Homo sapiens: one gene and its partners. The protein of the gene in region 1 purifies or fractionates together with the protein of each later gene. This does not show direct contact. Each region holds a gene or a part of one and is shown on either strand. Other genes may lie near its edges.

The links.
Region 2: the proteins of CTBP1 (region 1) and ZEB2 purify together in Homo sapiens (affinity purification with mass spectrometry; 8 studies listed by BioGRID and IntAct, with this or other methods). This does not show direct contact.
Region 3: the proteins of CTBP1 (region 1) and BCORL1 purify together in Homo sapiens (affinity purification with mass spectrometry; 4 studies listed by BioGRID and IntAct, with this or other methods). This does not show direct contact.
Region 4: the proteins of CTBP1 (region 1) and WDCP purify together in Homo sapiens (affinity purification with mass spectrometry; 5 studies listed by BioGRID and IntAct, with this or other methods). This does not show direct contact.

What each region holds. Positions count from the first base shown.
Region 1 is NC_000004.12:1,239,130-1,246,155, reverse strand, and holds part of CTBP1 (C-terminal-binding protein 1), read left to right. Parts: intron 1-4,636; 5' UTR 4,637-4,824; coding exon 4,825-4,831; intron 4,832-7,026. UniProt on the Homo sapiens protein: Corepressor targeting diverse transcription regulators such as GLIS2 or BCL6. Has dehydrogenase activity. Involved in controlling the equilibrium between tubular and stacked structures in the Golgi complex.
Region 2 is NC_000002.12:144,384,110-144,391,135, reverse strand, and holds part of ZEB2 (zinc finger E-box-binding homeobox 2), read left to right. Parts: intron 1-1,107; coding exon 1,108-1,685; 3' UTR 1,686-7,026. UniProt on the Homo sapiens protein: Transcriptional inhibitor that binds to DNA sequence 5'-CACCT-3' in different promoters. Represses transcription of E-cadherin. Represses expression of MEOX2.
Region 3 is NC_000023.11:129,985,610-129,992,635, reverse strand, and holds part of BCORL1 (BCL-6 corepressor-like protein 1), read right to left. Parts: intron 1-7,026. UniProt on the Homo sapiens protein: Transcriptional corepressor. May specifically inhibit gene expression when recruited to promoter regions by sequence-specific DNA-binding proteins such as BCL6.
Region 4 is NC_000002.12:24,037,381-24,044,406, reverse strand, and holds part of WDCP (WD repeat and coiled-coil-containing protein), read left to right. Parts: intron 1-4,894; 5' UTR 4,895-4,912; coding exon 4,913-6,730; intron 6,731-7,026.

The DNA of each region.
Region 1 (7,026 bases):
CTCCCCCGCACTGGGTCGTGGTAACCCACAAGGTGCCACCTGCGTCACTGACCATCGTTTCCAGAAGCCCCTCCGGCCACACATTCCATGTGGTATCTCCCACAAGGAAATGTTCGTTTTTTTCCCTGTGAAGCCAGAAATTTCTTGGTGGCTCTTTGCCGAGCCAAACGTTAACCTTGAGTTGTCTCTCTGGGCGGCCCCAGGTGGTACCAGTTCTCACGGGTGTTGAAGGAGAGTGAGGATGGCCCTGAGGGAAGCCCAGTTGGTTTGGTTGGGGAGGCGTTGGGGCTATGGCCCTGAGAGAGGTGTGGGCGGTGTTGGGACCAGGCCCCTTCTGCACCCTCCCCTGGCACCGCCGTTAACTCTCCAGGCCTGGTGTGGCCCAAGCCACCCTGCCTACCCGTGCTACCCTACCCACACGTGCCACCCTGACCTGCTTGTGCCATCCTGCCCGCCCGTGCCACCCTGCCCACCCGTGCCACCCTGCCCTGCCGCCCGTGTCACCCTGCCCGTCCATGCCACTCTGCTATGCCGCCCGTGTCACCCTGCCCTCCCGTGCCACTCTTCCCTGCCGCCCGTGTCACCGTGCCCTCCTGTGCCACCCTGACCTGCCGCCCGTCTGTGGTGTGGGGGCTCCTGGGCTGCCCTGTCTGCGTGGCTGGCAGGAGCCTCAGAGGCATCCGAGGCTGTCTCTCCAGTGGTGTCGTGTGTAGACTGTGTTGGGAAGGGGAGGAAGGTGTAGCCCTGATACCCCACATGTGGTAGGAGCCAGGAAGGTGGCGTTCTGGGGGTTCCTGGAGCTCACAGGTTGTGTGCATGTGCTCGCTGAACAAACAGGGAAACGTGCGGCTCCACGGATGTCCTGGAGAGGAATCTTGCTGGCAAATCCATGCCTTTGATCACAGCCCCTGCGCTGTGTCCTCTGAGCTGTGATGCGGCCCTGCAGGCCCCGTGGAGTGCGGTGGCTCCCTGGCTCACAGGGATGCTGCCGTCCAAGGTGCCGTATCGGCTCGTGGATGACTTGGGCAGTGTCTGTCTGGGGTGCTGTCGTCGGAGGAGCTGTTTCAACCTGTGGGTGACGGGCCTTGTCTGTCTGGGGGAGGTTCTCTTGGCCCCGTGCTCTCAGCCCAGTGGCTCCATGCTGCTGTGCGGCTCCCTCTTGGGGGCCTGCCTTCTCTGCCATTGCAGGGCAGGGCCTCAGTTTTCTCTGGGCGGCAGGTGGCTGTATCTCAGGACTGGAAGGCTCCGGGTCAGGCTGTGCACAGCCTTCGTTCATGTCAGCCCCTGGCTGGGCAGCACCGCCAGGCCCTAGTCTTTGGGCCTCCAGGCCTGGACAGCCAGAGGGGGCATCTCACCAATGCCCAGATGGCTGCCGGGGACTCACGGCAGGGCAGCTTTGTCACGAGAGGGCCACTCGAGCCCGGAGTAATCAGGGCTTATGGGGACAGGGCAGGGTGAGGGCCGCTGAGACCACCCAGCCTTAGGGTGCCCTTCTGGTGGTCGGGGAGCCCTTCCTGGGCAGCGGCTTTAGGGGCTGCTGTGGGGAGGGGGAAGAAGATGGGGTTGGTGAGGAGGAGCTTTTGGGACACTGTCCTGGTGGAGGTCGTGAGGGAGGGGAGCGGACCGGTTGGCCCAGCAGGGCTGGCCAGTGGAGGGACGTGGAGGGTTGGTAGCTGCCGAGCCTGGGTCTGAGCAGGCGGGGATGAGGACCAGGTGCTGAGGCTGGGGAAGGAACAGGGGTAGCTGCTTGGTCCTGGCGCATCTTGGTGCCCCCTGGGACTTCCTGGAACACCCCCCCCCCAGTGCCCAGAGACCCACTGTGGCTGTCTGGATCGGGGCAGGTCCCAGCCCATGGTGACCCCCAGTGTGCCGGGGCAACCCGGTCCCTCTCCAGACCAGAATGGACCGATGCCCAGCACACACGTGGATCGGGGCGGAGTGGGCAGGCGTGGCCAACAGGAGGGAGGATCCGGCAAGCAGATGGTGATGTGCATCCAGAGACAGGGCGTTGACATGTGGCCAGGAGGCTCTGGGGTCATCGGGCCGCCACCGTGCAGCCCCCCGGGACTTGATGCCTCCAGAGAACCTGGGGGCTGCTGCCCCTCACCTCACCCCCATTTACTTTAAAATCAGTTTTTGTTTTAGAGCAGTCTTAGATTTACAGGAAAATAGGAAGCACAAGCTTCCATGTGCTCTACACTCACTTCCCTCGTGGGTCCCTTGAGTGCTTTCTTACAACATGAGGTTAAGCGTCTGCAGGGTGAGAAGCTGGAGACTGTCCTCGTGTCGCTGGGCTGAGAGCCGTGTGCGGCTGTGAGTTTTTGATGAGGAAAAGCAGTGTGGGTCCTGGATTTGGACAGCACAGGCCCCTCTGGGAGCCGTGTGCCTTCACCTCGGAGTGTGTGGGCAAGGTACAGAGCTGGAGCCCTTGACCCTGACCGGCCAGCCAGGAAGGCCGTAGGAGGCCAGCTCCCTGGCGTGAGGTGCGCAGGGCCTCTGGCATTGCCCTAGGTGAGGGCTCCAGGACTCGGACACTGGCTCTCAGTGGGGCAGGTGTGGCCCGGCAGGGGGCGCTTTGTGGGTGCACAGTGGCCCCAGGGTGGTGCAGATGGTGGGCAGACCTACCCCAGGGCTGTTTCTGAGACAGAGGTCCCTGGAGGAGAACCAGGTGCTGGGCCTCAGGTGTCTGTCCTGAACTGGAGCAGCCTTGGAACAAGGAACCACAGGAAGTCCCTGTGGCATGGGGTGCAGCCCCTCAGGTCTGGCAGGGCTAGCCCAGGGAGTGCAGGGCCCCAGGAGCCCTGCCACAGGTTCCTCAGCTCGGGAGCTCACGGCCTCCTCACTGCAGGGTCCTTTCAGGAGGGCCAGGGTGGCCTTCACACATCTGCTTCTTCCTCAGAGACACAGGTGTGGGCACGTACTGGCCAGTATAGATAAGCATTGAGCAGCATTGATGGGTATCGATGATCCTCCAGGAGCAGCGGCTGGTGCCATGCTGCTGTGGGCAGTATTGAGTATTGGCCGGTCTTGACGAGCAGCAGCCGGTACTGGGCCACCGTGGGTAGCATTGATGAGTATTGACTGGTATCAATGAGTATCAGCCGGTATCAATGAGTATTGGCCCGTATCAATGAGTTTGGCCAGTATTGATGAGTATTGGCTGGCATTGATGAGTATCGGTTGGCGTTGATGAGTATCGGCTGGCATTGATGAGTATCGGCTGGCGTTGATGAGTATCGGCTGGCATTGATGAGTTTGGCTGGGCGTGGGTGGCGCGGTGCCTTGCCCCCTGGCCAGGCTGGCTCGTGGGTGAAATGTGACATTTAGGCGGTTTTCTCCTGTCCTTTTAGTTTGTTTTTATGTGGTATCCGGGTACCATGGGGAGATCTGGCATTCAGGGCAGGAGGCTGCAGCGCAGGTCATGGGGGCTCAGGCGCAGGTGATGGGGATCCCGCTCCACAGTGTTGCTCTTGGGCCCTCCGTCAGGGAGTCCCACACAGCACCTGCCATGAGGAGTGGTGTTGGGGACCCTGGATGGGAGGTGCGTGCGTGGGGCTGCACCCCAGCCCCTGTGATGGTGTCTCTGGAAGCTGGAGATGGTCGGCATGTATGCTTGAATCCTGCAGAGGGAGTTGAGGGTTGGAGATTTGTCTGCGAGGCCTCTGCGCAGGGGCGGCCTCACAGCACACTACCAGGGTCTTAGGCTTGGCTGAGTGGCCCCTTCTGGCCTGGCAGGCAGTCGTCTCAGCCCACGCCTGCCATGCTGCTGGGCTGGTGGTGGCCGGCTCCTGTCCTGGTCAGCCTGATGTCAGCTGCACGTTGGGGTCAGCCTCGGTGCTGTGTCTTCATGCCAGAGCAGGGGCCAGGTGTGGGCAGCTCAGTGACACCCTCCCGAGGGCTGGGCGATCGTGTGCACTCTCAAGCCTCTACTGGAAGGCTTGGCCCTCTCAGGGGCCCCCTGCCCCTGTGCATTCAGCCACTGGGGTTCGTGCCCTCAGCTTCCCGCCAGGCCCTGGCCGTAGCGGTCAGGAAGAGCTGAGCAGTTTTTTTGGGAGAATTGAGGGAGCGTCGCCAGGATGCACTGAGGGTCGGAGGTGGAGCCGGCGCGGCTCAGTGCAGGCAGTGCCAGGCTGGATGCTGGAAAGCCAGCAGCACCTCTCCCGGTGGCTCCTGGGAAGTTCCACGTCCTTGCCTGGTCACAGAGGCCCGGGAATCAGTGACATGAGATAGAAGCTTCCAGAACAGGAGGCAGAGCCTTTCCGCAGTTTCCCTGCCCACAGCACACACCCTGTGCCCTCCGTCCCCTGGTTCTTGGACACTGGGGACATCTGGATGCGGCTAGAGCCTGTGGGGGTGGCCGCAGCCCTGGGGGACTGTTCCCAGGAGTAGGCCTCGGGGCCACAGGGGCGCGGCCTCGGGCCTGGCACTGCAACCTCAGGGTGAGCGCCCTTCGTGTGTGCGGCAGGAGCCGGGGCCCCTGGCTGTCAGCAGGCCCCCGAGTCCAGGTAGGTCCCAGACAGCAGTCCCGGGTGTGGCAGATGCAGTGAGGTCCACTTCTGAGGCGTTCCCTGGAGTCTGTGAGTTCTGGTCGGACCTTCGATGGCATTTTAATGTGTCTCTTGTGTTTGATTTTTAGTAAGACTTTGACCCCGACGCAGGCTTCAGTGATTGCCGCGGATCAGAAGCCTGAGCACTTTGGCTCGAGACAATTAAGGACGTGGGATGAGGCTCCGAGACAGGACGCGGTTCTGCCTGGGGATCCTGAAGATAAAAAGCTTTGAAAAGTCGAATTCATGGTCGTGGAAGCTGAGCCCATATTAAGAGATGTCAGGTTGGTAGGGGTTCCTGGCGTCGGCGGCAGAGTGAAGCCGGCCGGTCTCTTTGCGACCGTGTGGAGGAGGCACTGCCTCGGATCAAGTCGAGGGACCTGGGCTGCATGGGCGTCGGGCCGGACTGCTGCCACCTGACCCCCGGTGTGCTCTGGGCGAGGTCAGGTGCCCCTCGAGGGAGGGCTTCCTGCACACCTGGTGGCAGAGCACAGCTGTGGTCAGGCCTGTCCGTGGCATCTGCTGTCTGTTTCTGTCGGAAAGTGTCTGAGAGGCACGGAGGGCCTCCATGTGGAGGCCGCCAGCACGAGGGTGGAGCCCCACACGGAACCCTGGAAATCTCAGGTGTCCACCCGGCTGGCCCAGGAGCAGGGCCGTGGCCCCTGTGGAGCTGTTCCTTGTGGTTGGTCTGCGCTCTCTGGCCCGGAAGTGCGTGCAGTCGGAAACAGCCTTGGGCTTGGGGGATGCTGCAAAGCCTGCTTCAGCACAGGCCGTGTGACTGTGAAGCCTCCTGGGTGTGTCCCCAAGCCTGCAAGGGTGGGCTGTCCGGGGAACCCTGGCACGGTGGTCAGGGGCAGCTCATGGGTGATGTGAGGAGGCACCTTGGGTGCCTGAGCCTGATGGGGCTTGGTGTCTCCACCTGCTCCCCCCTCCCCACCGTTCAGCTGAGGGACCCGGTTCCCACTCACCCAGCACCCGGGAGTCCCCCACGCGGTTCCGACGAGGGACCCGGTTCCCACTCACCCAGCACCCGGGAGTCCCCCACGCGGTTCCGACGAGGGACCCGGTTCCCACTCACCCAGCACCCGGGAGTCCCCCACGCGGTTCCGACGAGGGACCCGGTTCCCACTCACCCAGCACCCGGGAGTCCCCCACGCGGTTCCGACGAGGGACCCGGTTCCCACTCACCCAGCACCCGGGAGTCCCCCACGCGGTTCCGACGAGGGACCCGGTTCCCACTCACCCAGCACCCGGGAGTCCCCCACGCGGTTCCGACGAGGGACCCGGTTCCCACTCACCCAGCACCCGGGAGTCCCCCCAGGCGGTTCCGACGAGGGACCCGGTCCCACTCACCCAGCACCCGGGAGTGCCCCACACGGTTCCGACGAGGGACCCGGTTCCCACTCACCCAGCACCCGGGAGTCCCCCACGCGGTTCTGACGAGGGACCCGGTTCCCACTCACCCAGCACCCAGGAGTCCCCCCAGGCGGTTCTGACGCAGCCGAGCGGTCTGCAGTGATCCCGTGTGTCCATGCCTTCCTCATCAGAAGTGAAATCCAAGGATACTGAGAGCGGATGTCTATCCACTCACTCAGAAACAGCAACATAAACCTTTCTGCTCATGAGAAGTCATCACCACCACACACAGCGGGGAGGGAGGCCACGTGCAGAGGGAGGCCATGTACAGTGTCACTGGGCGGCCTGTCTATGGTGCTCGTGGGCAGCTCCCGTCCAGAGGGAATGAAGGAACAGGCGAACCAGGACGCGGTTTTGACCGTGCAGACCTCACGTTTGGGATCTGGTTTCCTATCTTGAAGGAAAGTGGGTGGAATGGCCAGTGGCTCCTCCGAGGACGCCAGGGCGCGAGGACCTCACGGGAGGGGCATGGGCCCAGCCGTACTGGGAGCCCTCGGCTTTGGGGTGGTCAGTGGAGACCCATGCCCCGTCCCCTGCAGGCGTGTGCTGCAGGCCCACTGCACCCCTGGGCTGTCCACCAGAGCATTTCTTTTCTCTGCCATGGGTTCCAGGAGGCACTTCCCTGCTTCCTGGATACTGGCAGCTCGGTGGCCTCTGCTCACCTGCAGGCGGATGGGGCAGCGGATGGGGCGGGAGACTGGGCCGAGCGTGCTTGTGGCCGCGGCCACTGGAGAGCCTGCTGGGTCACTCTGCTCCTTGGTTCTGTCGTGCGCCTCCCCTCCTGCTGGCCGAACGGTCCTGGGTACTGCTTGGTCTCCTGTGGCCGGTCTTTGGAGGAGGAGGGGAGGGACCGGCTGGGCCCTGGCCCCAGCTCCGCCTCTGCCCAGCTGCCGTGGGGCTGACAGTGGCCCCACCTGGTGCTCCCTGCCTGGCACGGGGCGGTCGGGCGGTGCCTGGAAGCTGCCATGCTTCTGTGACGCCTCAGAGCCCTTATTTCTCCAGTTGGCCCCGATGAGGCTTAGTTGCGTCATACGCGAAAGGAATGGGTGTTAATGAGCTTTAA
Region 2 (7,026 bases), on another chromosome or scaffold:
ATGGGTCCCTAAACTTATAACATGACACTTAGCAAACGAAAATGGGATTGGATCTACTTTGTTGGGTTTTAATTTAATTTGCTGAAATGCAAGTTTGTATTAGGAAATAAAGCATACAACTTCATATATGTTACAGTGATCCATGGCACTCTACATGACACATTTCTGACTTTAACTCTGGAGCATCAGGCTGATAATTTTTTTTTATCAGTTCTATTTTGGAAATAAACTTTCAAGTATGGCAGCTATGGAAGGTGTTGAAGGCATTCCAGTGCTATTTGTGGCCTGGAATCAACCAGATGTGTTTAGGCTTGGCACTGGCTTTAAGTTCCAAACACTGGTTAGAAACTGCCTGGAATGCCAAAGGAAATACAGCATTCCCTAGCTGAAGAGTATTTTAACACTCAACAAGTGGCTGACATCTTATGGAAAACTTTAGAGGGAAAACACTATTTGGAATCAGTTCAGCCTCCATGATATACACCCTCCTAATTTGTATTTTCTAATGGTTTCTTCTCTGATTTTTATTCTTAGACTCCTATGACTGATAAGACAGTCTTGACATCCTCTTTCCTCTGTTTCTTCCACTCCCTCCTAACTTGGCAGTTTGCTCCCATTTAAGACCTAAGATCCCCTTTCAAAGCAACTATCTCATGATATAACAAGCAGAGGATATACATGCCAATGCCAGCGATGATGCCATCTTTATCACTTTTGTACAAGTCTTTGTTTTAAAAATGTAAGGAAGAGAATTACCTGATGAAAACATGTGCTAGATCACTAGAAATGTCTTGTTGAATAGAACATTTTTCCAAGTTTTAAAATGAGACAATTAGCAATGGAAAGCTTCCTGTCTGAGAATTTTCCTCCAGCAGCTTTCTAAGTTCTTCTTGTTTATTAACTACATTGCATCAGCAAGCATTAGAAAACCAAATTGTGGGATGGAAATGCATCTTCCTAACTCTCCATCGATTAGACCGGGGTGTGTTGATCTTTCAGGCATAAGTACACACGCTTATGCCTGAGTCTGGACTCGCGTACAGAATTAGTGGAAAGAGACTTCATGCAAAGACACTAATCACCCTGTCATCTTGTTCTTTCTCCCAGGAAAAAGACCACATCAGTGTCAGATTTGTAAGAAAGCGTTTAAACACAAGCACCACCTTATCGAGCACTCAAGGCTTCACTCGGGCGAGAAGCCCTATCAGTGTGATAAATGTGGCAAGCGCTTCTCACACTCGGGCTCGTACTCGCAGCACATGAATCACAGGTATTCCTACTGCAAGCGGGAGGCGGAGGAGCGGGAAGCGGCGGAGCGCGAGGCGCGCGAGAAAGGGCACTTGGAACCCACCGAGCTGCTGATGAACCGGGCTTACTTGCAGAGCATTACCCCTCAGGGGTACTCTGACTCGGAGGAGAGGGAGAGTATGCCGAGGGATGGCGAGAGCGAGAAGGAGCACGAGAAAGAAGGCGAGGATGGCTACGGGAAGCTGGGCAGACAGGATGGCGACGAGGAGTTCGAGGAGGAAGAGGAAGAAAGTGAAAATAAAAGTATGGATACGGATCCCGAAACGATACGAGATGAAGAAGAGACTGGAGATCACTCCATGGACGATAGTTCGGAGGATGGGAAAATGGAAACCAAATCAGACCACGAGGAAGACAATATGGAAGATGGCATGTAATAAACTACTGCATTTTAAGCTTCCTATTTTTTTTTCCAGTAGTATTGTTACCTGCTTGAAAACACTGCTGTGTTAAGCTGTTCATGCACGTGCCTGACGCTTCCAGGAAGCTGTAGAGAGGGACAGAAGGGGCGGTTCAGCCAAGACAGATGTAGACGGAGTTGGAGCTGGGTATTGTTAAAAACTGCATTATGCAAAAATTTTGTACAGTGTTAAGGCCTAAAAACTGTGTGGTTCAGAGACTAATTCCTGTGTTTAATAGCATTTATACTTTAAGCACAACTAGAAAATTGTAAGAATTGCACTCTACTTATGTATCACTACAAACTTTAAAAAACTATGTCTAATTTATATTAATACATTTTAAAAAGGTGCCCGCACTACCATACATCAGTATTTTTATTATTATTATTGTTATTCCTTTTTAATTTAATGTGCTCGCACTACAATGCATCAGTATTATGATTCCTCTGTACTTTCCTTTCGCTATTCATCAATTTCCCATTTTTTTTTTCAGCTTAAGTAACCACACAATTTTAGGCCTCAATTTTTTTTTTTTTCTGTGAAGGAACTTGAAGTGATGCATGTGTGAATTTAAGATACCGAAGTCTTAAAGTGACCTGGACGTGAAGGAAAAAGTAAGATGAGAAATAAAGAAAGCCTTTGTAAGGTGGTTTTAAAAGCCTTATATGCAAACCTTTTAATCTGTGTTTCTGCAAGTGCCATCCTTGTACAGTGTTAAGAGGGTAACATGGGTTACCTTTGCACCAGCTTCAGTGTTAAGCTCACCCTGTTCTTTGAAGCACCCATGTCAGTATTAGAAGAATAGGCAGCAGTTCCTTAGTTTACATATGTTTGTGCAATTATTTTCTGTACTTTTTTGTTCATTAATTTTGTCAGTATTACACCAAACTGTTTTTGCAACAAAAAAATTTTTTTTGCATTCATTTAATTTTAGGTCAAATAACATTTTATTTATGTGGCTCATTTTATATTTCCTAATTTTATTTATTTCATACTGTAGTGTACAGTATTATAGTTCTTCAATATATAGATATATTTTAGTAAAAAAGGAACATGACGTTGATCATTTGGGCAAATTTTACGTAAAGAGAAGAGCATTTATTGTGTTTTGGAACATTAATTGTGAGATGGGATTTTTCAATTTTATTATTTTATTTTTGTTTTTTTCCAATTACTGGAAATTCCAAATTTGGGAACTTTTGATACGATCTTGTGAAAACACTGTATTTTCGACTGAAAATTCCACTTTCTTCATCTTGTTTTTTAGCTAAAAAGAGGGACTGTTAAATACAATGTATGATACCATGACAAAAATCTTTCCTGAATTGTCTTTGTAAAAGTATTATTGAATTTTCAATTTGTAATTTCTTTTGAAAATGACCATGCTCGAATAAAAATGTAGCCAAACTAAGAATGTAGTTAATGAGTTCTGTACTTTTAGAGAGTTTTCCTTCAATGACCATTAACATGTAACATGCTTTATGCTTATAATAATGCTAATTATGTTTTTTTCATATAATTTTAGTTTAGCAATAATTTTGACTGGTACCAATAACTGTTTTTTAAAATTCCATACCTATGTACAGCAATTTTACAGCTTTTCTCAACTGATCCTGATTCCAGATTGTGTATTTTTATGTGAGGTTATATTATTCAAATTTAGTCTATTTACTTTACAGACATTTCTACTTTTGCATTACGAGTATTTAGAGATTATGTGTTAAAAATTCACTTCTCTGTCCAAGGGGTCTTTGTGATTTATTCAAAAAAAAGTCTAATTTCAAAAAGACAGCTATTATTCAGTGTTATTTATAATATGTAACCTTTTTTAAAGGATTGGGATAGTTTATCTCACTTTTTGAAATGCAGACAGTAGTTTACCGTTTATCTGAAACTAGAAGGCGTGGGTGGGAGAGGAAAAGCTAAAAGCAAATGCTAACAAAAATAACCGTGATTTTCTAAGACAGTTTTTCAGTTTTTACAAGATGACCCTAATATTCAGAATATGAATGTATTCGTAGGTTTTACATAATGACTTTTATCAAGAAACTAGATTCTGCTTCTTAAATCTAATTGCCAAGTGAAGAATAACAGAAAAAACAGATTACCTTATCAAATTTACAGCTCTTGAATATACAGAACTATAATATAGTAGCTGTCCATGTATTTTTTCTACTTTAGAATCAAAGAAGAAAAGCATCATTTTGCTATTAAATTTGCTAAAATTTTGAGTATGATATTTCCAGTTGGCAAGAACAACATATTTATATTTATTCCTTAGCCATAATACCACTTTCCTAAATTTCACAAAAGTCATTCTTTGCAACTTGAAACTCAATAGAAAGTGTGTATGTGTGTGTGTGTATATATATATATATATACACACACACACATACACAGAAAGGATGTAATGAAGATACAGTAATAGTTGAGCAGACCTTTTTAGAAAAACATGTTTTTAGCTCTATCTTCAAACTTTCTGGCAGAGGGGGTGGGGGGGGCAGGGGGAGGAGTGGCATCAAAATGCTATGCCTCCTGTTATCCACAGCCTAGAGTTTTTATATTTGGAAAGTTTAGAAAATTCTATCCTCGTTTCTCCTTCTTTGAATGGCACAAATAAATACACTACATAAATTTTTCTGGTTTGAAAGGCTCTAGGCGATAACTTTATTAATTCAACCTGAAAATATCAAGCCATTAAATTTTGTCCGGGTAGAATAAATCCCTGTGGCCTCTTTTAAAGCAATGTAGGTCTCTGTTGCCCATGGGGCATATCTGTGTCCCAATCCACAAGAGATAGGACCAACAAACAATGAATGTGCAACCTAACTCTTTCTCCTTGGAAAGAAGAAAGTGTGCACGAAGTAGAGGAGGGTGGGCAGACCCTGCCTTGCCCCTCCTGTTACCCCCTTCTCTGTCATTTGTTCCTAACTCCATTTCATAGGCAGGCTCAGAATACCTGAGTCTGAAAATATCAGGATAACACTTGTGAATTGTGACAATCACTACAATGTCCCATATCTGAGGAGTTTTTTTTAATGCTATTTATCCGCTGGACACGATTGCACATTAGGGCTGCATAATCCTCTAACTCTAGGGAAAAATAAAAACTTTTGATTTGTCTTAAGATTCTTCTCCAAGGTCGCAAACAAGAAATTCCCCTCCACAACCAAGAGATGTGCATTTTAGTAACATCAGATGTGTTCTTCTGTTTTATCAACTACTTACTCTTCCCACACGCTTAGTTCTAAATCTAACCTTTCCCCCCTCGAATAGGGGGCAGGGGAGGATGAGGAAACACTGGAACAACTGAACACCCCTGCCCATTTTCTCCAAGAGCCTTTTGTATTCTAGCATATCTGTGCAATCTTTTCTTTTTTCTTCACATGACACTGTAAGCTTAGGCCTGAAATAACTGGGAAGAGAGATGCGTATCAGAATTTCTCCGCAAGAGCTAAACAAAACATACATCTTCCTTAGCATGAATTGGACTGGGGGCGGAGTGGGAGGGCTTGGAGGAAAGGGGAAAGAAGGGACTATATTTGAATAAATATGAATAAATGTATTAGATACTTTTCACAATCAGATAACTTTTAAAAAGGTCATTTTTTATCTTTCTAATAATGTAAGCCTTAATAAAAGCAAATCTTAGTCACAAATTTGAGGAGACTGCCCAATAATAAGTTTACATGTATTTGAACTGAAAAATTGTTAACCATGCTTTTGCTCCAAGATGTGTGAGGCCATTCAGGGGCTGTAGGGCCCTGGATATACACACAAACAAGTGTGTGTATATCTGGAGCCCCACACATTGTAATAAACACAGCTGCATTTATTTGACTATGTGATCCCATGTACATGTAAAAACATTCAAACAAACACACTCAGCGGATTTATTTATTGTGCAATGGGGCAATTATTCAAATAAACATGCTCAATGCAATTATTTGAATCTCACATTGCATGTTCATCAATCATAGCACTAAAAAAAGAGGGGGAAAAAACACCAAAGAATTCACATGGGGAAAAAATATATATATGAAAACCACCTTATTATAGATTTTATAGGGCAGCTGAGGTTATGGCTCCCTTCTTAACTGTAACTCAACTATTCTGTATTCAATGACATTTGTTTCTAATGATTAATTGGTTCACTCACTTGATCATATAATAGCAAACTTTATAAACCTGTATTGTGTAGAGATGTGAAATCTCTATATTTCAAGAGCAGAAGAGTTCTTTCTAGACACCTTACATCAAGGGACACTGGTCCAATTATTATCGCTTATATAAGCACTCCTATAAATTCTGAAAAATTTTATACATGCAACAAAACATTCCTACATTTGAAGACATTAAGAAAAATCACAGGTGACTCATCTGATCATTCTATATATTAATAAATATTATGACATATATGTGAACACATCACAAATCATATTGGTGTACCAAGAGGCAATTTATGCCTCTCTTAAGTATGTACTGACATAACCTAATATACTAAAATGGGAAGGGGCTTTTAGTCACTGAAATATGCATCGTGTAACAAAGATGAAGAAAATACATGGCTTGTGCCCATCATAAAAAAAGATTCAGACTGAAGGCTTAGCTTTGGTTTTTTCAATTAAATTGTTAAACTGTGCACAGTGATTTTTTTTTAGAACTTGAGACATTTGTGATGTTGGCTGTTTAAATCTTTGTTACCTTCGCTGTGAATTGAAATTGTACATATTTAGTAAATCATGCAGACAAAACAAACTTTTTAGACAATATTTTTATTGGAGAGTTTTCTTTTCCTGTATCCATGTTAAAAAAAAAAAAGACCTCCTTTCCCAAAATAAAAATGTCAATACTAAATTTAAAGAAGTATAAAGGAATGATTGCTTCCTTTAGAGCAAAATATTTAAATAAACATGGAGATAATTGGCAACATGTTCTTTTTGGGCTAGTAGGCTGTGTCCAATTTTTTGGGTCTGATGTTTCAGAGGGCCTCTGTTTCAGGGTTGAAGATGATATATTAATCTCGGAATTAAACAAATGCTATTAAATAACAGAAATAAATCCTTCAGTCTTCATTTGTATCTGAAATGTGGAATTAGTCAGAGAAATGGCACCGAGATAATATGATGCTGAATATGCCACAAGCTAAAACTTTCTCTATTAAACGAGTCGCCTACTACCTATAATCTAGCATGACATGTTAAAATGCTCCAAAATACTGAAAATAGAAAATGAACACTACTGTTCCGATTTGGTCTTGAGATTAATATGACAAAGATTCTAATAATTTTAGTCAAAGAAAATGATGAGTAAAAAA
Region 3 (7,026 bases), on another chromosome or scaffold:
GTCTCCTGGACTACATAACACAAATATTTGGAGAGACCATTATCAGGTTATTCTTTCTATTTTCTCACAACAGAACAGACTCAGCTATGGGTTCAACTAATTTTATATATATTATTCATTCAAAGGTGTATCTATACAGCTTTCATTAAACAGTATTAGCTCAAAGAGTTTGTTGTTGTTATTTTAAGACTGGGTCTCAACTCTGTCACCTGGGCTGAAGTGCACTGGCACAATCACAGCTCACTGTAGCGGCACTCCCGGGCTCAAGTGGCCCTCCCACCTCAGCTTCCCAAGTAGCTGGGACTATAGACACATGCCACCACACCTGGCGCCACCAAGCCCAGGTAATTTTTGTATTATTTTGTAGAGACAGGGTCTCGCTACATTGCCCAGGCTGGTCTTGAACTCCTAGGCTCAAGTGATCTGCTAGCCTCGGCCTCCCAAAGTGGTGGGATTATAGGCGTGACGACTGTGCCTGGCCCAAAAATTATTTTAAAAATCAGCTGTGCCTGGTGGTATGGGCCTGTGGTCCTAGCTACTTGGGAGGATGAAGTGGGAAGATCACTTGAGCTCGGGAGGTCGAAGCTGCAGTGAGCTGAGTTTGCACCACTCTACTTCAGCGTGGGCAATAGAGCAAGACTCCATCTCAGAAACAAAAATAAAAATAAAAAGCGCCAGGCACGGTGGCTCACGCCTGTAATCCCAGCACTTTGGGAGGCCGAGGTGGATGGATCACGAGGTCAGGGGTTCGAGACCAACCTGACCAACATGGTGAAACCCCGTCTCTACTAAAAATACAAAAAAAAAAAAATTAGCTGGGCATGGTGGCGGGCGCCTGCAATCCCAGCTACTCAGGAGGCTGAGGCAGGAGAATTGCTTGAACCCGGGAGATGGAGGTTGCAGTGAGCCGAGATCGCACCACTGCACTCCAGCCTGGGCAGCAGAGCAAGACTCTGTCTCAAAAAAAAAAAAAAAAAAAAAAAAGAATATTTTCTGCCGGGCACAGTGGCTCACACCTGTAATCCCAGCACTTTGGGAAGTTAAGACAGGAGGAATGCTGGAGCTCAGGAGTTTAAGAACAGCCTGGGCAACACAGGGAGACCCTGCCTCTACTAAAAATAAAAATAAAAACAATTGTCCGGGCATGGTGGCCTGTCCCAGCTACTCAGGAGGCTGAGGCAACAGAGCCAGACCCTGTCTCAAAAATAAATAAATAGACTAGGCGCAGTGGCTCACACCTGTAATCCCAACACTTTGGGAGGCCAAGGCAGCCGGATCACTTGAGGTCAGGAGTTCGAGACCAGCCAGGCCAACATGGCAAAACCCCATCTCTACTAGAAAAAATACAAAAATCAGCCAGGCGTGGTGGTGGGTGCCTATAATCCCAGCTACTCAGAAGGCTGAGGCAGGAGAATCACTTGAAACAAGGAGAAGGAGGTTGCAGTGAGCCAAGATTGCATCACTGCACTCCAGCCTGGGCAACAAGAACGAAACTCTATCTCAAAAAATAAATAAATAATATAAATACAAAAATTAGCCAGGCATGGTGGCTCACACCTATAGTCCCAGCTACACGGGAGGCTGAGGCAGAAGAATCGCTTGAACCCAGGAGGCGGAGGTTGCAGTAAGCCGAGATCACGCCACTGCACTCTAACCTGGGCAACAGAGTGAGGCTCGGTTTCAAATAAATCAATCAATAAATAAACAAATAAATTAATTAATTAAATAAACACAACAGCCCTTTTCAGAAAGCAATGGTTTTTAAAAATGTCACCCATGGCCCGAAATGTTCCCTAGAGTTTCAACTGGATATACACTCCTCAGTTCCTGTCCTGAACTATTGAGCAGTGTTACAGCATAGCTGTTAAAGAAGCCGCCACTTCCACCTCAAAGGTAGATGCAGTGATGAGTCAAGCTTTCTTCCTAGCATGTTGTAAATGCCAAATGTGTACTAATACAACAGGAATATGAAGAAAGAGGACAGAGAATCAAGATATAAGGGGACCACTGAGAAGCTGTTGATAGTTTTCATGCTGCCACCATGTTTACTATAACATAATAGGATACAATTGAACAAGAAAAATTAGATAATAATATAATAATAGGGCCGGGCACAGTGGCTCATGCCTGTAATCCCAGCACTTTGGGAGGCCAAGGCGGGCGGATCACGAGGTGAGGAGATTGAGACCATCCTGGCTAACACAGTGAAACCCCGTCTCTACTAAAAATACAAAAAATTAGCCGGGCACGGTGGTGGGCGCCTGTAGTCCCAGCTACTCAGGAGGCTGAGGCAGGAGGATGGCGTGAATCCAGGAGGCAGAGCTTGCAGTGAGCCGAGATAGCGCCACTGCACTCCAGCCTGGGCAAAAGAGCGAGACTCCATCTCAAAAAAGAAAAAGAAAAAAATATATATATAAAATAATAGGTCCCATTTATTGAGCACCTACTATGGGCCTGGGATGATTTTGTGTAATCCTCACAGCCCTGTGAAATTGGTATTATCATCTCCATTGTATAGATGAGAAAACTGAGGCTCAACAAAGTTAAGTGGGCCGGGCATGGTGGCCCATGCCTGTAATCCCAGCACTTTGGGAGGCTGAGGTGGAAGGATCACCTGAGGTCAGGAGTTCGAGACCAGCCTGGCCAACATGGCAAAACCCCATCTCTACTAAAAATACAAAAATTAGCTGGACGTGGTGCTGGGCGCTTGTAATCCCAGCTACTCGAGAGGCTGAGGCACGAGAATCGCTTGAAGCCGGGAGGTGGAGGTTGCAGTGAGCCAAGATAGCACCACTGCACTTCAGCCTGGGTGACAGAGCAAGACTCTGTCTAAAAACAAAAAAAAAAGAAACAAAGAGAGTTAAGTGAAGACCTGGCACGGTGGCTCATGCCTGTAATCCCAACATGTTGGGAGGTTGAGGTGGGCAGATCACTTCAGGTCAGGAGTTCAAGACCAGCCTGGTCAACATGGTGAAACCCCGTCTCTACTAAAAATACAGAAGTTAGCCAGGCATGGTGGTGGGCACGTTTAATCCCAGCTACTCAGGAGGCTGAGGTGGGAGAATAGCTTGAACCCAGGAGACGGAGGTTGCAGTGAGCCGAGATCACACCACTGTACTCCAGCCTGGGCAACAGAGCTAGACTGTCTCCGGTTAAAAAAAAAAAAAAAAAAAAAAAAAAAAAAAAAAAAAGACGGGTGCGGTGGCTCACGCCTGTAATCCCAGCACTTTGGGAGGCCAAGATGGGCAGATCACAAGCTCAGGAGATTGAGACCATCCTGGCTAACACGGTGAAACCCCGTCTCTACTAAAAAAAAAAAAAAAAAAAAAAAAATTAGCCGGGCATGGTGGCGGGCGCCTGTAGTCCCAGCTACTTGCGAGGCTGAGGCAGGAGAATGGCTTGAACCCGGGCAGCGGAGCTTGCAGTGAGCCGAGATCATGCCACTACACTCCAGCCTGGGTGACAGAGTGAGACTCTGTCAAAAAAAAGAACGAAAGTAAGTTAAGTGACTTGCCTCCTGCCACATAGCTAAGAAGTAGAACAGCAAGCACTCTAACCTGAGGTTGTCGGTCTCCAAAGCCCCCCCAGGCAATTCTGAGGAGCTCAAGTTTGAGAACCACTGTACTATACTAACTGGGGTGTGGTACAACCAAGTTAAACTGAGTAAAGCCTCATTATCAGAAGATAATCATCTCATGGATTCAGGTATACAGTGCATCAACTCACCTCTGCGATCATAGTCATATACGGTGCACTTCTCCACAAAACTTGGAAAAGCAAAAATCTGCTTGTTCTCCTTGTCCCTGGACATCAGCATTATAACAAAACTCAACAGTACCCTTAAATGGCACTAACACTATGATTTCTAGGCATACCTTAGTAATGAGGTAACCAAATTTTGTTTCTCAGCAGACCCACGGTAAAGAAGCCCAAAACACAAAGCTTTCCCTGCTCCTTGGTACTCTGGATTCCTCACGGACCTTCAGCTTAAGGTTTTCTTAAAATACAAATGAAGAGGTATCCTGCCTCACATACTGTGATGAGTAAATCTGAAAATTACCACATTTTACAAATAATATATCAGCTGTATTCAAATTCATCATAATTCATTGACCAGGGAAAATATGACCTTGACATGCAGCCTGCAGTTACTCAGTTACTTTTTTTTTTTAAAAAAAAGATCCTTTTTTATGTTTTATGGGGAAAAGGTCACTTCTGCTTAGAATAAAAAAGAAAACTAGAACAGCATATTTGAATTACGGGGATAGAAACACAGAGTTAAATTTTACTCTTGACCAGAATGAAACTTCAGTTCGCCAAAGAAAGTTCTCATCATAAAAGATTGCTTTTAAGTTATGAACAGTGGGAAAGGGAATGATTTAATTTAGAAAAAGAACCATTTCTACATTATTTTAAGGATAACCATTCAAAAATGGGCATTAATAAAGCCTAGTTCATATGTAAAATTATATCAAATACTGTACTAGCATCCTAGTGGCCGAAAAGTAGATATTACCTCCCTCTTTGGCCATCCTGACACTAAACACTCTGGCAACCATGGACTCACACCTAATTCAAACTCCAGCATTAAGAAACTTCCCTTCTCTTTGAAAACTCAAAGGCCTAGGGTCTTCCCTCTGGGTTATGTAATCATCAGTGGCTTCTACCTTTTCCTATTCTACCCCAACAATTGTGTCACTTTCTCCAGCACCCTCTCTGTTCCACTCCGGTGTTCACTTTCCCACCCAAACTTGACCTCGAATTTCTTCACTCTGATTCTGATGCTGATTGGCCCTGAAGAACAGCTCTCTACTCTCTTTGGCTGTTCTATTTCATCCCAAGCTTAGCTCAGCCCAGAATCAATGAATTACTCCATGTGGCCTCCAGTCCAAGCCCTGATTAGAGCCTCTCTTCCATGCCCCTAACCCCACCCTCCAATTCTGGCCCACAGGCTCTCATGTCACTCAGTTTTTTATCCAGTTTCACCCTGGAATTTCCATCACTCATCTCCTGATACCTAGGATCCTTCCCACCTGCAGACTGGAAACACTGGTGGATTCCCACTTTTTCCTTCTTTCAAGGCCACTCTATTTAGGACAGTGAATCCCTCCCCCCATTCAGTATCCTTACTTTAGTCTAGATTTTCTAATTAATGTTTAGATGTGTAAGGCCTGGATCCCAGCTAACCTCTGCTTCCTGGGCCCTCTCAGGGCAGTGGCTATCAAAGGCAAGATTTTCCGCTCCCTAACACCGGCTCCAAAAGATATCTGAGTAAATATCTTCCTCCTTTGGCTCTTAATTCCTCTCTTTTTCTCTCACATTCTGCATTTTAACCTGTATATAATCTCTAAGTTCCCTATTTCCTTATGGATAAATATGCTTGTATTTCTCTCTAAATGCCAGTTTCTCCCCCACCCTACTTTTACCCCATATATTCCTTCTCTCTTGCCCCAACCTTAGTGATTCCAGCATGAAATTGTAAAGAGCTTTAAGAGTTCTTCAAAGTTTACTTTGGAAAACATTGTCCTAGAGATTTCAAGGTTTGACTTTTTCCTTAGCTGGCCCTTACATGGGACCAGTGATGATCACCTTTCTTTTCCTTTCATTGCTCAACCAGCCCTCTTCCTGACTTCTCTTTCTTGCCTTCCTTCCCTCTAGTGTCCAAGTCCTTTTTTCCCATAATTCTGTTTCTCTCAAAGAAGCCCTTCCCTACAACCCATAATCCAACCAATAGTGTCCTGAGATCCTCCACTCCCTGTACTGAACATTTTTTTCTTTTTTCTTTTTTTGTTTTTTTGTTTTTTTGTTTTTGTTTTTGAGATGGACTCTCGCTCTGTTGCCCAGGCTGGAGTGCAGTGGCACGATCTTGGCACACTGCAACCTCCACCTCCCAGGTTCAAGCAATTCTTGTGCCTCCACCTCCCAAGTAGCTAGGATTACAGGCACGCCCCACCACACCTGGCTAATTTTTGTGATTTTAGTAGAAACGGGGTTTCACCATGTTGGCCAGGCTGGTCTTGAACTCCTGACCTCAAGTGATCTGCCTGCCTTGGCCTCCCAAACTGCTGGGGTTACAGGAGTGAGCCACTGCACCCGGCCCATTTTTTTCTATTTCATGAACTGCATCATAAATGAAGCAGAGCCCTGTGGAGGACCCCTCTTTTCTTCCCAAGAATGTCTATGTCACTGAGAAAGGGATCCTCCCTCTTTATCTACGCTTTCCTGGCAAATCAAAATAGCCAGACCCACATGAGTGTTTTTGGTGCAGCCATCATGTCTTGTGGAACTCCCTCCACTCTGCCCTATGCAGACTCCAGCAGCAGAGCTTGCCAGGGCCTTAGCTTTTCTCTGCCCTATGCCAACGATTTGTTTTGCTGTCCCTTCCTTATTGGCCTTTTCTAAAAATTTGCTGTCCCTTCCTTATTGGCCTATTCTAAAAAAATTTTTTAAAAATCCTCCTGAACTCAGACAAGGGAGAGGTGAAACCCCTCTCCTTCCTCATCAATGACTTACAGCCAGGACAAAAATAAACTGGGCCGGATGGATCACCTGAGGTCAGGAGTTCAAGACCAGCCTGGCCAACATGGCGAAACCCTGTCTCTACTAAAAATACAAAAAATTAGCCAGGCGTGGTGGCGGGCACCTGCAGTCCCAGCTACTCTGGAGGGTAAGGCAGGAGAATCACCGGAACCCAGGAGGCGGAGGTTACAGTGAGCTGAGATTGTAGCACTGCACTCCAGCCTGGGCGACTGAGACTCCATCTAAAAAAAAAAAAGAAAAGAAAAGAAACCTAACCACCCTTGTTGCAAAGCTGGTATCAGGATCAGCCCTCTTAAGGTCAATTTTAGTCAGGATCTGTGCCCCAAGGCCTGTACCTTTCATCCCTCACATCTGCCCCAAGGGCAGTTGCCTAAGTTGCCCTGTCAAAAGATGTCCGCCTAACAACATCCTCATGACTTAGTCAAGATGGCCACATCCCTAAACTCTACTATCAACCTTCAGATTCTCTTAACTTGACTCACCAAG
Region 4 (7,026 bases), on another chromosome or scaffold:
TCCCAGTTCCTTGGGAGGCTGAGGCACAAGAATCACTTGAACCCAGGAAGCAGAGGTTGCAGTGAGCCCAGATCATGCCACTGCACTCCAGCCTGGGTAACGGAGCAAGACTGTGCCCCCACGCCCCCCCCAAAAAAAAACCTCAGTAAACTTATGTTTGTTTTTCTCTTATTCCCAAATCCTTGTCTTGTGCTACCCTGGCCACACACACCCTCATTGACATTAGACAGAATTTGGTATCCTAAAATATATAAATCGACTTGGATGTAATTGGCCCATTAGGAATTTTCTCTGCCCATGAAAGTGTATCATGGCATTATTTATCAATAAAATTCTTTTTAAAGTACATAAGTAGATATTAGGGAGAAAACATTATTATCTTTCATAAGACCAGTGGGACAGAGATCACAGTTTTCTTCATTAGTAATGACTGGACTTTTTTCTCCGTTTAGCAAGCCGCTGCAGAACCACTGAATCTGACATCATATATAAAAGCATAATAGACCCTTTTTTTTTTTAAGTGAAAGATCCTAAGAGCAAGGACAAAGCTAGCAAGGAGATATGCGAAATAATTTACAGATAAGCAAATCACCAGGTTGGTAGAGAATACATTTCATTGGATTTAGAGTCTGAAGACAACTTCTCAAGTTCTGCCTTTGACACTTACTCAGTAAAACAAGGCTGAAAAATGTCATTTAGATTCAGTGACAGGGAAGCACTGGTGGCCTGGTGAGAGATGTTTTGGAGAAGAAATTGGAATGGAATTCATTTTAAGTATATTAAGAAGAGAGTGAGTGGTGAAAAATATGAGTACTGCCAGTTTACACAACTATTTGATAACTAATAAGGTTAAACATCACTTTATATATGTTTGTAGATTGTTGGGGGGTTTTTTGTTTTGTTTTGTTTTGTTTTAAGTAGAGACAGTATCTTGCTGTGTTGTCCAGGCTGATCTCTGGTCTCGAACTCCAGGGCTCAAGTGATCCTTCTGCCTTGGCCTCCTAAATTGTTGGGATTACAGGCATGAGCCACTGTGCCTGGCCAACAGTCATTTTGTTTAGTTTTGTTTTTGAGACCGAGTCTCACTCTGTTGTCCAGGCTACAGTGCAGTGGTGCCATCTTGGCTTACCGTAACATCTGCCTCCCAGGTTCAAGCAATTCTCGTGTCTCAGCCTCCCAAGTAGCTGGGATTACAGGAGTGTGCCATCACTCCTGGCTAATTTTTTTGTATTTTTAGTAGAGACGAGGTTTCGCCATGTTGGCCAGGCTGATCTCGAAATCCTGACCTCAGGTGATCCACCCGCCTTGGCCTGCCAAAGTGCTCGGATTAAAGGCATGAGCCACCTGGCCCAGTAATTTTTTTTTTTTTTTTTGAGACGGAGTTTCACTCTTTTTGCCCAGGCTGGAGTGTAATGGCATGATCTCAGCTCACTGCAACCTCCGCCTCCTGGGTTCAAGTGATTCTCCTGCCTCAGCCTCCTGAGTAGCTGGAATTACAGGCATGTGCCACCACGCCCAGCTAATTTTGTATTTTTAGTAGAGACGGGGTTTCTCCATGTTGGTCAGGCTGGTCTCGAACTCCTGATGGTCAGGTGATCTGCCCGCCTCGGCCTCCCAAAATGCTAGGATTACAGGCGTGAGCCGCCGCGCCTGGCTCTGGCCCAGTAATTGTTTTTATACTAAATTTTTTTTTTTTTGAGACAGAGTTTCACTCTTGTTGCCCAGGCTGGAGTGCCATGGCACGATCTCGGCTCACTGCAACCTCCACCTCCCGGGTTCAAGCGATTCTCCTGCCTCAGCCTCCTGAGTAGCTGGGATTACAGGCATGCGCCACCACAGCCAGCTAATTTTTTTTTTTTTTTTTTTTTTTTGAGACGGAGTATTGCTCTGTCACCCAGGCTGGAGTGCAGTGGTGCGATCTCGATTCACTGCAACCTCTGCCTCCAGGGTTCACGCCATTCTCCTGCCTCAGCCTTCCGAGTAGCTGGGACTACAGGCGCCCGCCAACACACCTGGCTAATTTTTGTATTTTTAGTAGAGACAGGGTTTCACCGTGTTAGCCAGGATGGTCTCGATCTCCTGACCTCGTGATCCGCCTGCCTCGGCCTCCCAAAGTGCTGGGATTACAGGCGTGAGCCACTGCGCCCGGCCAATTTTTTGTATTTTTAGTAGAGATGGGGTTTCTCCACGTTGGTCAGGCTGGTTTTGAGCTCCTGACCTCACGTGATCTGCCCTTCTCGGGCTCCCAAAGTGCTGGGATTACAGGCGTGAGCTGCCACACCCAGGCTTTATACTAAAATTAGTCTTTCTCAGTCTGTGTTTATTATTGCAACATTTTATTCTTATATCCATTATTATATATTTATGTATCCACTGATTGATAGTATTTCAAAATATAATTTTCCTGAGGCAGTTTTTCATTTTACATTAAATAGTATTTTTTATGTTTATATTTCAAAGTGAGTATTCAGGTATTACAGCTTATCCAAATAATGTCCTTATTCTCCCTACTGACTATATGTATCTTTTTTTTTTTTTTTTTTTTTTTGAGACAGAGTTTCACTTTTGTTGCCCAGGCTGGAGTGCAGTGGCGCCATCTGAGCTCACTGCAACCTCCGCCTCCCCTCCCAGGTTCAAGCAATTGTCCAGCCTCAGCCTCCCGAGTAGCTGGGATTACAGGCACCTGCCACCGAGCCCAGCTAATTTTTGTATTTTGAGTAGAGATGGGGTTTCACCATGTTGGCCAGGCTGGTCTCGAACTCCTGACCTCAGGTAATCTGCCTGCCTGGGCCTCCCAAAGTGCTGGGATTACACTTTGGGTGTAATGGGTGTAAGTGCTGGGTGGCTCATGCCTATGAGCCACCATGCCTGGCTACCCCATTTTTTGTTTAAAAGAAAAGCCATAACATGTAAAATCCTATATATCTTTGTGTCTTTCTTTAACATTTTCAGAGGCTAAACACCAAATTGTTAATGATGCTTTTATCAAGGCTTTGAAATGTTGGAAAGGAGGAGGAGCTAAAGGGGCTGGCACTGAGTAGGAGGGAACAGTTTTTTTTTTTTTTTGGAGATAGAGTTTTGCTCCTGTCGCCCAGGCTGAAGTGCAATGGTGCAATTTTGGCTCACTGTAATCTCTACCTCCTGGGTTCAAGTGATTCTCCTGCCTCAGCCTCCTGAGTAGCTGGGATTACAGGCATGCGCCACCATGCCCGGCTAATTTTTGTATTATTATTAGAAACAGGGTTACACCATGTTGGCCAGGCTGGTCTCAAACTCCTGACCTCAGGTGATCCACCCGCCTCAGCCTCCCAAAGTGCTGGGATTACAAGCATGAGCCACCGTGCCCAGCCTAAGCATGTACTTGTTTTTTGTTGTTGTTGTTTCTTTTTTGAGGTGGAGTTTCGCTGTTGTTACCCAGGCTGGAGTGCAATGGCACGATCTCAGCTCACTGTAGCCTCTGCCTCCCCAGTTCAAACGATTCTCCTGCCTCAGCCTTCTAAGTAGCTGGGAGTATAGGCATGCACCACCACACTTGGCTAATTTTGTATTTTTAGTAGAGATGGGGTTTCTGCATGTTGGTCAGGCTGGGATCGAACTCCCAACCTCAGGTGATCCTCCCGTCTCAGCCTCCCAAAGTACTGGGATTATAGGCGTGAGTCACCACGCCCAGCCCTAAGCATATGCTTCTTTAGTGATTCAAATGCCTGGGGGAAAAATATTCAGGGTGAAAAAATGAAGATAATACTTGCCTAACCTACTTTACATTATTTTAAAAGATTATTGTAAGATAAAATGCAATAGGGAATGTGAAAATGTTCTGAAAATTATTAAGTGCTGTTGAATAAGATGAAGTAGAAGTAGAAATAGAAACAGTGATTTTTGAGTGTCATTTCAATAGAGGGATAAAAGCCACTTTGGAAGGATTTGAAATAAGTGCTAATAAAGTCAGAGATGTGCATATCAGTTATTCATTGATTTGGCAGTGAAAGGACGAATAGAAATTAGATGATGGAGGAGACTTTTCTTAAATTTTTAATTGGAAAATTTTCTAACTTAAAAGTTGAAAGTACCATAAATACTAACATAGCCTCAATCTAGACTCTACAATTATTAACATTTTGCTACATTTGTTTTCTTTCTGTGTGTCTATAGAAAATTTGGGTTTTTTTTGTCAAACCATTTGAAAGCACATTGTAGGCATCATGACATTTTACCCCAAGTGCTTCAACATGCTTATTTAAATAATAAGGACCTTGTCCTGCATAACCACAATACCATGTTCACACTTAAGAAAATTAATAACTCTGGCCGGGCGCGGGAGCTCATGCCTATAATCCCAGCACTTTGGGAGGCTGAGGTGGGTGGATTGCCTGAGGTCAGGAGTTTGAGACCAGCCTGGCCAACATAGTGAAACCCCGTCTCTACTAAAAATAAAAAAAAAATTAGCTGGGCCTGGTGGCAGGCACCTGTAATCCCAGCTACTCTGGAGGCTGAGGCAGAAGAATCGCTTGAACCCAGGAGGCAGAGGTTGAAGTGCGCCGAGATTGTGCCATTGCACTTCAGCCTGAGCAACAAGAGTGAGACTCCGTCTCAAAAAAAAAAAGAAGAAAAATAATAACTCTACAATATTTTCTGATATCCATTCCATACTCAGATTTCCCCAGTTCTAAAAATCTTCATTAGGTAGAAGATTTTATTTCTTCAAGATCCAAAGTATATACATTGCATTTGCCTGATAGCTCAGTAGTCTCTTAATTTATAATACTCCCCCTGTCCTTTTGTCTCTCCACATTATTAACCTGGGAAGGGGCTAAGCCGTTGTCTTACCAAATGTCCTACATTCTAGATTTGTCTAGATTTCTCATGGTGTAACTTTCCTTCTTAATCATTTCAGGTAACCTTTATCAAAAGGATGGAGTTGGGAAAAGGAAAACTACTCAGGACTGGACTGAATGCGTTGCATCAAGCAGTGCATCCGATCCATGGCCTTGCCTGGACCGATGGGAATCAAGTTGTCCTAACTGATTTGCGGCTTCACAGTGGAGAGGTCAAGTTTGGGGACTCCAAAGTCATTGGACAGTTTGAATGTGTCTGTGGGTTGTCCTGGGCCCCACCTGTTGCAGATGATACACCTGTTCTACTCGCTGTCCAGCATGAGAAGCATGTCACTGTGTGGCAGCTGTGTCCCAGCCCTATGGAGTCAAGCAAATGGCTGACGTCTCAGACTTGTGAGATTAGAGGATCACTACCTATCCTTCCCCAGGGCTGTGTGTGGCACCCAAAATGTGCTATTCTGACTGTGTTGACTGCTCAGGATGTCTCCATTTTCCCTAATGTTCACTCTGATGATTCCCAGGTAAAGGCAGACATCAACACCCAGGGCCGCATTCACTGTGCATGTTGGACCCAGGATGGCCTGAGGCTGGTGGTGGCAGTAGGCAGCAGCCTGCATTCTTATATTTGGGACAGCGCTCAGAAGACTCTTCACAGGTGCTCCTCCTGCCTGGTGTTTGATGTGGACAGCCACGTCTGCTCCATCACAGCAACTGTGGACTCACAGGTTGCTATAGCTACTGAGCTTCCATTGGATAAGATCTGTGGCTTAAATGCATCTGAAACCTTTAATATCCCACCTAACAGTAAAGACATGACTCCGTATGCTTTACCAGTTATTGGTGAAGTACGCTCTATGGATAAAGAGGCAACTGATTCTGAAACAAATTCTGAAGTATCAGTTTCTTCTTCCTATTTAGAACCTCTGGATCTAACTCACATACATTTCAATCAACATAAGTCTGAGGGTAATTCTCTTATTTGTCTAAGAAAAAAGGACTACTTGACAGGAACTGGCCAAGATTCTTCACATTTGGTCCTTGTGACCTTTAAGAAGGCAGTTACCATGACGAGAAAAGTCACTATTCCAGGCATTCTGGTTCCTGATCTGATAGCATTTAATCTTAAAGCCCACGTAGTGGCAGTGGCTTCCAACACTTGTAATATAATTTTGATCTACTCTGTCATTCCATCTTCAGTCCCAAACATCCAGCAAATTCGATTAGAGAACACTGAAAGACCAAAAGGGATATGTTTCTTGACAGACCAACTATTACTAATTTTGGTAGGAAAACAAAAACTCACTGATACAACATTTCTTCCTTCTTCAAAGTCTGATCAGTATGCCATTAGCTTGATTGTTAGAGAAATAATGTTGGAAGAAGAACCTTCAATAACATCAGGTGAAAGCCAGACTACCTACTCTACTTTCAGTGCTCCGTTAAATAAAGCAAATAGAAAAAAGTTAATTGAAAGTCTTTCCCCAGATTTTTGTCACCAAAACAAAGGGCTGTTGCTGACAGTTAATACCAGTAGTCAGAATGGAAGGCCTGGAAGAACACTTATTAAAGAAATCCAGAGTCCTCTGTCTAGTATCTGTGATGGCTCCATAGCTCTAGATGCTGAGCCTGTTACCCAGCCAGCATCGCTGCCCAGACACAGCAGCACACCAGACCACACCAGCACACTGGAGCCTCCTCGTTTGCCTCAAAGAAAGAACTTACAAAGTGAAAAGGAAACTTATCAGCTGTCTAAGGAAGTGGAAATTTTATCTAGGAACCTGGTTGAAATGCAACGGTGTCTTTCTGAACTTACAAACCGTCTGCATAATGGGAAGAAATCCTCTTCAGTGTATCCACTCTCTCAAGATCTTCCTTATGTTCACATCATTTACCAGGTAAATTCTCCTTTGAGGAACTACCACTATACATAAAAGCTCCTGCAGCCGGTGAGTACTGCAAGAAACGTATTGATGAGGAAGATGGTGCTCTAACTGAGCTTCACTAAGCTGGGCATGTTATGTTACAGGCAAGTTGGTACACCTTTGCAGGTTGGTTGGTTTTTAGCCTGCCAACCAGATAGGCGCACATATCAGTCTGCATCATGATTTTATCAGGTGCATGACGTGGAAAAATAAATGTCTGCACTAATTCGGGCAATTTATATTTAGAAAAAAAATCATGTTATTTCATT